2 separate regions of the Homo sapiens genome follow, and region 2 is linked to region 1. Evidence: fine-mapped expression QTL. A gene starts in region 1. The other region holds a variant in brackets. All regions are shown on one strand. Distances are between the middles of the regions.

The links. PIP is the estimated chance that this variant, and not a neighbour inherited with it, causes the effect.
Region 2: its variant is fine-mapped to the expression of ANXA7 in whole blood (TOPMed, PIP 0.97).

The regions. Positions count from the first base shown.
Region 1 is chr10:73,411,717-73,417,243 of GRCh38, forward strand. ANXA7 (annexin A7) reads right to left here and starts at 2,342. Exons shown (of 13, transcript NM_001156.5): 1 at 2,296-2,342. RefSeq lists enhancers at 1,356-1,475, 1,486-1,565 and a silencer at 1,966-2,525.
Region 2 is chr10:72,845,520-72,850,519 of GRCh38, forward strand. The region is part of intron 2 of MCU (mitochondrial calcium uniporter); the gene reads left to right. Among named protein-coding and RNA genes, the nearest start is that of OIT3, 46 kb to the right of the region's middle. The variant T/C (reference allele first, on the strand shown) is at 2,915.

The DNA of each region.
Region 1 (5,527 bases):
CCACTGTGCGGGGCCATTGCTTAAATTTTTAAAAAGGAGGGACAGGTGAAACAGATTATGGATAGCCATACAAGGAGGTGTTATGTGGTTATTAAAAATGAGGCAGCTTTTTCTTTTACCCATATATGAAACCATCTATAACACGTATTAATGAAAAAAAAAAAAGGCAAAGTGAAAAACTGCATAGTGTGCTGCCATTATGTGTAAAAAATGCACTGATTTTGACTTATAGAATATCCCTGAAAGGACACTCAAGGAAGTAGAAAACAGTGACTGCTTCCTGGATGAAGAGCTGGGACACAATGGAGAAGACTATTTACCTTTCTTTTTTCTTTTTTTGAGATGGAGTCTCGCTCTGTTGCCAGGCTGGAGTGCAGTGGCACGATCTCAGCTTACTGCAACCTCCGCCTCCGGGGTTCAAGAGATTCTTGTGCCTCAACCTCCTGAGTAGCTGGGACTACAGGCGCCTGCCACCACGCCCGGCTAATTTTTGTATTTTTAGTAGAGACGGGGTTTCACCGTGTTAGTCAGGATGGTCTCGATCTCCTGACCTCGTGATCCTCCCGCCTAGGCCTCCCAAAGTGCTGGGATTACAGGCGACAGCCACTGCGCCCGGCCGAGACTTACTTTTCAATGTACTTTAGCCCTTTTAGAATTGTACATATATCATTTATTCAAGAGGCAGATTTTAAACGTTTTTGTAAAAAGCTAAATAACACCCAGAGTGACTCAAAAAATTTCTCAACTTTGCCCAAGTGAATAGTAAGTCTAGAGTTTTTTGGGTTTTTTTTTTTTTTGTGACAGAGTTTCTCTCTGCCGCCCAGGCTGGAGTGCAGTGGCGATCTTGGCTCACTGCAACCTCTGCCTCCCGGGTTCAAGCGACTCTCCTGCCTCAGCCTCCAGAGTAGCTGGGATTACAGGCGCGCGCCACCACGCCCAGCTAATTTTTGTATTTTTAAGTAGAGACGGGGTTTCACCGTGTTGGTCAAGCTGGTCTCAAACTCCTCCTGACCTCGTGAATCTCTCGCCTCGGCCTCCCAAAGTGCTAGGATTACAGGAGTGAGCCACCGCGCTCGGGCTTTTTTTTTTTTTTTTTTAAACATTCTCTGTTAGCAATCACTTTTAAAAGACTAGAAAATCATTTTTGGTTTTCCAAACCACCTCCACCCAGTGAGTCAGTTAGTAAAAGGGCTGGGTCTCACCGTTTCTCATTGATGGCATGAAGCCCAGGAACCCAAGAGGCAGCTGTTGCAAATTTATGGGGGAAAAAATACACGAAACAGGAAGGGTGACTGAAGATACGCGCAACAGCGAATACAATTTTGCAAAACCGGCTTCTAGGTATGGTAGGATCATTTAAATCCGTCAGTGATGTGGAGAAAGAACATGGAGGCATGGCTAGTCCTCTGCACGGACAGGTAGGTAGCCAACCACCAGTGAGGACTGAAAGACAGTCCTCACTGAAAAGGACTGAAAGTTTGCAGTGGCCAAAATTATCTCTTTTACCTATTCAGTGCTTGAAACTCTTTCCTTGCCTGGAAGGTAACTCATTACACTCATCATCTAATTCGGACACATTTAGCAGATTAGCTGGCCATCAGCTGGCAAAAATCAGGGCGTTTACGGCAGTCGGAAGACAACAGCGTCATGTCTGTCACTTTACGGTGGACATCAGCCATCTACCTCTGCACCTTGGTTTCCTTGCGCAGTGTTTGCACAGGATGAGCTAATTTCAACACAGATTTGCTGCTGGTCGGGGAACAGCAATCAAATCTGGAATGCTATTCTAGAATAGCTTCCAAGAACTGTAAACGAGAACCAGTGTACGACCTTGGCCTGGCGCATTCTGTCCTACGGTTCACTAAACACAGTAAAAATTTCCCCAAGTTTCCCTAAATTCGCTGTGTCACCGGAAAGTACAGCCACTACCAGCCAGACGGCTTTCAGCACTGCCCGTGCGTTTCCCTACTCAGCCTCCCGCGAGGCAGCTGGGCCACGCTCCGGCCTCAGCCCCTCCACCTGCCCGAGGGCGGGGCGCCACTGGTCCCTGGGATTTCCAAACGGACGGAAGGGCTTCCCGTAAGCCAGGCCGGCCGCCTCACCCACGCCACCCCAACACACCCCGGCCGGCAGCCCGGCTACGAGACGCGCAAACCGAGTCGCCGCCATCCGGGAGGCCCACACTGCCCTCCAGCCGCGCCCCACTAGCACCGGGACAGCAGCGCCCAGAGCTGGCCGAGGGCAAGACCACCGAGGCAGACGAGGTGGGAAAGGGAGGGGGGCGCCGCTCCTCACCTGACCCCAGCAGCAGCGTCACAGCCCAACCCGGTCTCCCGCAAGATGGAGCCGGGGGCGGGCCCAGGGTGGGCGGGGCGTCTCGCGAGCCCGTTAGGATCGCGGCTGCAGCCGGGAACACCCCCGGAGCCGGAGAGGGCGCTGCGGGGAGCGGGCTGTCCCTCAGTCCCGCCCCTAGGCGCCACCTGAGGGAAAAAGACTCTCCCTTCGGGTGGCCCAGCGGATTTTTAATCACATTTATCTGTCGCAAGGACCCTGCACCAATCCCTTTTAAGGCTGCCTCAAGTCACCTAGGAAGTTGCAGCAGTCCTGGGGGTATCCGGGGCCCCTTCAGTGGCGGGCGGTAGAGAAGGGCTGAGACTGGGAGGCTGGTGCAGCCTCCCCGCCTCTGAAATACCGTCCTCCAGGTATTTTCTGGGGACAAAGACGGCGTTTTTTGTTAGCCTCCTGTGAAAGTAATATTTGTGGGAAATCTTAGTTGGAACTGTAGATGAACTAATCAAAATCACTCCCGAAAGGAGTTGTTAGGTGATTTTAGGCTCCCCTCGTGGCTACAGCATTGAACACACATTAGCATTAAACATTTGAGGCAATTACGAGGGCTCAGATCAATATTTTAAACTCGTTAAGGAATTTATATTACAGAGAAAACCAATCAGCTACCTTTTAGAGTGGTAAAAGGTAGCTTCTGGGTGTGGTCCCCCGAACAGCAGCATCACCTGGAAACGTGTTAGTAACGCAGATTATTGAACTCCACCTTAGACCTACTGAATCAAACTCCCCGGGTGGTGCCCAGCAACCTGTTTTAACAAGCCTTCCAGGTGGTTCTGATGCACACTAAAGTTTGCACATCTGATGCACATCAACTTACTTATTCCTCTACACACTTTTCTACCCAAAAGCTTCCTCATGGGGGTGGAATAGAGTGGATTACGATTTTAAATGGGAAGAGCAAGCAAAATATACGTGGCTTCCAAATAGGTGTGTGGAGTGAAAAGTATTTGAGGCAGGTCATTGCCTCATTTAACAATGGTAGACAAAATGCACAACTCTCTAGGTGACCAGCATTAATTCCCCGGCGCCCAACAGTCTGTCTACCTGGAAAATAACAGGACTTTCTGTCCTACCTACCCCAGAGACCTCCAGGATTTAAGCCTTCCCTGAGAAGCCTACTCTGTTCATTCTAGAGTTCCCTTTGTGAGCTCGTTCCAAACCCTCCCTCTGCCTTAAATACCACCATAACAGGGTATTTGCCAAACCTCTTATTTCCAGCCCACTTTCCTGAGCTGCAGGAATAGTCCAATAGTCTACTACGACATTTGCCATTTCATCCTTTCAATTCATCCTTTCTTCCTGGCATAAAAGGCGTTACAGGATCGGAGACCCTTTCCTCCTGCTACCTCTGCTTAGAAAGCACTGCTCATCTTTTAACAATTACTCATCTTAATTAGACTTGTTTTCAAGGTTGCTCATCTCCGTCTTGCTCCAATAAACTCTTCCTGATCTTCTTTTTTGTACTCAACTGGACCATTTTAATTTTTTAATTTTTTTGGAGACAGAGTCTTGCTCTGTCACCCAGGCTGGAGTGCTGTGGTGCGATCTAGGCTCACTGCAACCTCTGCCTCCGGGGTTCAAGCGATTCTCATGCCTCAGCCTCCCGTGTAGCTGGGAGGCATGTCACCACGCCCAGCTAATTTTTTTGTATTTTTAGTACAGATGGGGTTTCGCCATGTTGGCCAGGCTGGTCTCGAACTCCTGGCCTCAAGCGATCCACCTGCCTCAGCCTCCCAAAGTGCTGGATGTATTACAGGCATGAGCCACCATACCTGGTCAACATCTCTGAAGGCCATGGTATGTTCCAGAGTTCATGTGAAATAAGAGCCATCATGCTTCTAATGTGAACATCCCACTGTATCAGAGTCTGGTTTTTTTTTGTTTGTTTTTGTAGTTTTGAGACAGGGTCTCATTCTGTTGCCCAGGCTGGAGTGCAATGGCACAATCTCAGCTCATTGCAACCTCTGCTTCCCAGGTTCAACGAATTCTCCTGCCTCAGCCTCCCAAGTAGCTGGGATTACAGGCATCCGCCACCACGCCCAGCTTTTTTTTTTTTTTTTTTTTTTTTTTTTTTTGAGACAGAGTCTCACTCTGTTGCCCAGGCTGGATGGAATGCAGTGGCACGATCTCGGCTCACTGCAAGCTCTGCCTCCTGGGTTCACGCCATTCTCCTGCCTCAGCCTCCCGAGTAGCTGGGACTACAGGTGTCTACCACCACGCCTGGCTAATTTTTTGTATTTTTAGTAGAGACAGGGTTTCACTGTGTTAGCCAGGATGGTCTCGATCTCCTGACCTCATGACCCACCCGCCTCAGCCTCCCAAAGTGCTAGGATTACAGGCATGAGCCACCACGTCCGGCCTAAATTTTTATATTTTTAATACAGACGGTGATTTGCCATGTTGCCCAGGCGAACTCCTGACCTCAGGTGATCCACCCACCTCGGCCTCCCAAAGTGCTGGGATTATTACAGGTGTGAGCCACCACGCCTGGCCCAGAGTCTGGTATTTAAGTTCATATCCTTTTTGTTCCATTAGAATAGTAATTTTGTCCCTCAGGGACACCTGACAATGTGTGGAGACATCTTTGTTTGTCACAACTGAGGGGAGGTGGTGGGGTTACTAGCATCTAGTGGGTGAAAGCCAAGGATTCTAAACAAGGTACGTATCCTACAATGCCTACAGTCCCTACACAAAGAATTATTCAGCCCAAAAAGTCAATAGTGCTGAGGTTAAGAAACCCTGAGTCAGAGTGATCTTTCTAAAGAATAAATTGGGTCATGTAATTCCCGTGATTAAACTTTTTTAATAGCTTCCCACTGGAACCAGAATAAAATAAAATCCAAACTCCTGATGGTCTATTAAGCCCTAGATAATCTGGTCCCTGCCTACATCGCTCATCTAATCCCTTTTCACTTTTTTTTTTTTTTTTTTGAGACGGAGTCTTGCTCTGTCGCCCAGGCTGGAGTGCGGTGGTGCAATCTCAGCTCACTGCAAGCTTCGCCTCCCAGGTTCACACCATTCTCCTGGCTGAACCTCCCAAGTAGCTGGGACTAAAGGTGACTGCCACCACGCCCAGCTAATTTTTTTGTATTTTTAGTAGAGACGGGGTTTCACCATGTTAGCCAGGATGGTCTTGATCTCCTGACCTCGTGATCCACCTGCCTCGGCCTCCCAAAGT
Region 2 (5,000 bases), 570 kb before region 1:
CTGTGTTCAGAAATGTTTAGATATACAAATACTTACCACTGTGTTACAGTTGCTGACAGTATTCAGCACAGTAACATGGTATACAGGTTTGTAGCCTAAGAGCAATACCTAGATACCTACTAGGTGTGTAGTAGGCTATACCTTCTAGGTTTTGTAAATATTATCTATGATGTTCACACAGTGACAGAATCACCTAATGATGCATTTCTCAGAATGTATCCCTGTCGTTAAGCAATGTATTCATAGAATGAAATTCTATATAGGAGTGTTTTTTTCTTTTTTTAAAATTTACCACTTCCTTATATATAGGAGTTTAAGTGAATATTTCCAGAAATACGATCCAACTTTGATAAACCTCAAAGCAATGATTATCATAAAAGGCAAGTTTTAGAGGTTTGTATACACCATGATCCTTTATATATAGGAGTCTCCCCTCCACCCCTTTTTCCATGGCTTCACTTTCCATAGTTTCAGTTACCCACAGGCAACCGCAGTCTGAAAATATTAAATGGAAAATTCCAGAAATAAACAATTTTTTTTTTTGAGACAGAGTCTTGCTCTGTCACAGGCTGGAGTGCAGTGGTGCAATATCAGCTCACTGCAACCTCTGCCTCCCAGGTTCAAGCACTTCTCCTGCCTCAGTCTCCCGAGTAGCTGGGATTACAGGTGCCTGCCACCACACCCAGCTAATATTTGTATTTTCAGCAGAGACAGGGTTTCACCATGTTGGCCAGGCTGGTCTCAAACTCCTGCCCTCAAGTGATCTGCCTGCATCAGCTTCCCGAAGTGCTGGGATCACAGGTGTGAGCCACTGCACGCGGCCCAATTAATAAGTTTTAAATTGTATGCTATTCTGAGTAGTGTGATGAAATTTTGTGCTCTCCTGCTCAGTCCCACCTGGGATGTGAATCATCCCTTTGTTCCGCATATCCATGCTTTATATGCTACTCGCGCATTAGTCACTTAGTAGCTGTTTCAGTTACCGGATTGACTGTTGTAGTACTGCAGCAGTTGTGGTCAAGTAACCCTTATTTTACTTAATACTAACCCCCCATGTACAAGAGTAGTGATGCTGGCATGTTGTTTTAATTGTTCTATTTTTTTCTTAGTTCTTTCTGATAATCTCTTATTTTGCCTAATTTATAAATTAAACTTAAAAAAATTTTTTTTCTTCTTTTTTGAAAATGAAAATGTTTGACTGGCCTGGGAAGGCTCCTCCCACCCCTCAAAGCCAGAGCTAACAAAGTTGTTCCCTTTAGGGTCCAGATGGAGGGAACCAGGATAGGGACTGGGAAGGGACCAGGAAGCAATGAAGGGAAGGAGTGGAAAGGAATAATCCAAATGGAGAGGAATAAAGCCTCCAAAATCTACCTAAAAGTAGGAGATCTTAGATCCAGGGAAACTTCCTCCCAGTGTGGTCAGGGAGACAGCTGAGCTTTAGATGTCAGTGTATTGATTTCCTTTTTTATTGAGACGAAGTCTCACCCTGTCGCCCGGGCTGGAGTGCAGTGGTGCAAACTGGGCTCACTGCAACCTCCGCCTCCCGGGTTCAAGCGATTCTTCTGCCTCAGCCTCCCAAGTAACAGGGACTACAGGCACACGCCACCATGCCCAGCTAATTTTTTGCACTTTTTCACTAGAGACGGAGTTTTGCCATGTTGGCCAGGGTGATCTAGAACTCCTGACCTCAAGTAATCTGCCCGACTCGGCCTCCCAAAGTGCTGGGATTTAAGGCATGAGCCACCGCACCTGTCCTGTATAATGATTTCTGATCAAGTTGGGGGAACCTGGGGTTCTCCACAGATCCCATCCTCATAGGCCACTCGTGTCAACTGAAGAATTCCAAGGTTTATAAATTTGGAAAGGAGAACTTCATTTCTCATAAAGGGTTGCAACCTTCAGGGTGGCCATTCTAACAGGCTGGGAAGCATAGCCCCCAGTCAAAAGCCAGAAATAGGTAGTTCCTCAACTTTATCATAGGTATGTATGTATAGCAAAAAAAATACTATATATAGGGTTCTGTACTATCTGCAGCTGGGTATTCACTGAGAGTCTTAGAACATATCCTCCATGTATAGGAGATATTACTATAAAATATAAATATATGCAAAGTCATACTATATTTGGTTATTTAATACTGTACAGCAAATTACAACAAAGGGGCATAAACTAATCTTTTATTATCTCTCATGTTTCTGTGGATTAGGGATTTAGGAATAGTTTGGCTGAGCAGTTTGTAGTCTTTTGAGGGTGCAGCCCCATGTCAGTCAGGGCCTTAATCATCTGGCTTGACTGAGGCCGGAAGATCTGATTCTAAGGTGACTCACTAACATGGTTGACAAGTTTACTTTTGGTCAAGAAGGTACCACTTCTCCATGTGGGCTTCTCCATAGGGCTGCAGGATTGTCCTCATGATATGATGACCGGCTTCCCCTAGAGCAAGTGTACAAGAGACCAAAGCAGAAGTAAAGCCTATTATGACATAGTCTTGGAAGTACACATCATCACTTCAGCTGTATCATATTGGTTCTGCAGACCAGCCCTGATTTGATGTGGGTGACACTACACAGGGCATGAATATAGACAATCCCTGACTTCTGATGGTTCAACTTATGGTTTTTTGACTTTATGATGGATTTGTTGGAGTAGTAAATGCATTTTTTGACTTACAGTGGGTTTATGCAGAGGTAATCTCATCATAAGTCAAGAGGCATCTATACTATCTTAGTCCATTTCTTTGCTGCTATATCAATTGCAAACTGAGTAATTTATGAAGAAAAGATTGATTTGGCTTACAGTTCTGGGAAATCCAAGATCGAGGAGTCCATCTAGTGAGGGTCTTCTTGCTGCATTGTAACATGTCAGAAGGCATCACATGGTGAGGAAGTGTGCACAGAAGACAGAGAGGGGAAAT[T/C]GACTTGAACTCACCGTTTTTGGGAGTGGATTTTATCAGGAATCCACTCCCCCAGTAACTAACCCACTCCTATGATAATGGCAAAAATCCAGTTATGGGGCAGAGCCTTCATGACCTAATCACCTCTTAAAGGTCCTGCCTCTCAACACTGTTAAAGTGGCAATTAAATTTCAAGGTGAGTTTTGGAGGAGACATTCAAACCATAGCAAATACTTACAGGCAAGAATTATAGAGAGCCTTCTTGAAGGCTGGCTATCACAGTACTAAATATTGTGTATTGAGATATATGTTTGTGTATGTGTGTGTGTGTGTCTGCCTGTGCGTGTGTGTATGTATAAATGGATGGAAATGGTAAACACCAACTACCAACTTCAGGATAGTGGCTTCATTTGGAAAAAGATCACCCTGCTTCAGTGTGGAAAATTGAACTGGAGCAAGGCTGGAATTAAGGACTCCAATTACAATGTAGCTGATAGAAGAAAGAGATGGTGGTGGCCTGGACTAAAATGGTGGTAGTGTAGACAGTATCAGAGGGCTTAGAGCTGTTTAAAAAATAGAATGAAAGGGCCGGGGTTGGTGGCTCACACCTGTAATCCCAGCACTTTGGGAGGCCGAGACGGGTGGATCACGAGGTCAGGCATTCGAGACCAGCCTGGCCAACATAGTGAAACCATGTCTCTACTAAAAATACAAAAAAATTAGCCGGGCATGGTGGCAGGCACCTGTAATCCCAGCTACTCGGGAGGCTGAGGCAGGAGAATCGCTTGAGCCTGGGAGGCGCAGGTTGCCGTGAGCTGAGATTCTGCCACTGCACTCCAGCGTGGGTGATAGAGCAAGACTCCAAAAAAAAAAAAAAAAAAAATCGAATGAAAGCACATGATGACTGATAAGATATGAGGAATGTCAGATTCTGGCTCTATGAATAGTCAAGGATGCCAGGTAATTTTCTGGCTTGGTCAAAAATAAAATAATGGTGGTGTTATTGGTTGAGATTATGGGTGGTTAGGGAAGATGGATTCACTTTTAGGACTTTTGAGTTTCAGTTATGGCTGTGGGAGACCCAATTTCTAGCAGACAATTGAATATAGGCTTGGGATATCATCAGCATTTACATGAGACTTTGGGAGGACGTGAGATTTCCTAGAGAGTGTGTGAATTGAGAAGCACAGAGGCCTAGGACAAAGCACTTAGAAACTTTTAAGGGATGAATAGAGGAAGAATAGCTTATGAGGGGAAATTAGAAGGTCTAGACAGAAAGAAAAGCTAGAAGCATCATAGAAGCTGGTGGGGAAACTTTTTACAAAGGGAGGGAGTCGTTAACATCATTAGATACTGCTAAAACAAGCAAGTTAAGAGCTAAAATTTCTACTGAATTTAGCAACCTAATGTCATGTGTGACCTAGAAGAGGATTTCTTAGTCAAATGATGAGATCCAAATTGCATTGGATTGAACTCTGTGACCTTAGCAGTATTATCTTTTTCTTTTTTTTTTTTTTTTAGACAGAATTTTGCTCTTGTTGCCCAGGCTGGAGTGCAGTGGCACGATCTCAGCTCACTGCAACCTCCGCCTCCCAGGTTCAAGTAATTCTCTTGCCTCAGGTGCCTGAATAGCTAGGATTACAGGTGTCTGCCACCACACCCAGCTAATTTTTTGTATTTTTAGTAGAGATGGAGTTTCACCATGTTGGCCAGACTGGTCTCGAACTCCTGACCTCAGGTGAGCCACCGCGCCTGGCCCAGGAATATTATCTAACGTTACTAGACTCTGTTATTCTTAGCTGCAAAAGAAGGATGTTAGTTTGTATGATCTGTCTGGCCTTCCAACACTGAAATTCTATGATTATATCTCACACTTATGATGCAGAATATTACAGAAAATGGGGAGGAAATCGACAATGTTAAGATCATAAGCCCCTGAAATCATCCATCATATATAGTTCTACTCCAAGTAGCTTTGCGGAAAAACCCCAACATGTGCTTCCTTGTGTACCAAGTCCCTTTCATAATAAGCCCTCAAGATATATACAGGTGATATATTTTAGTGGAGATTTTACTCATTGTTTTGAACACCAGCCAAACTTCATAC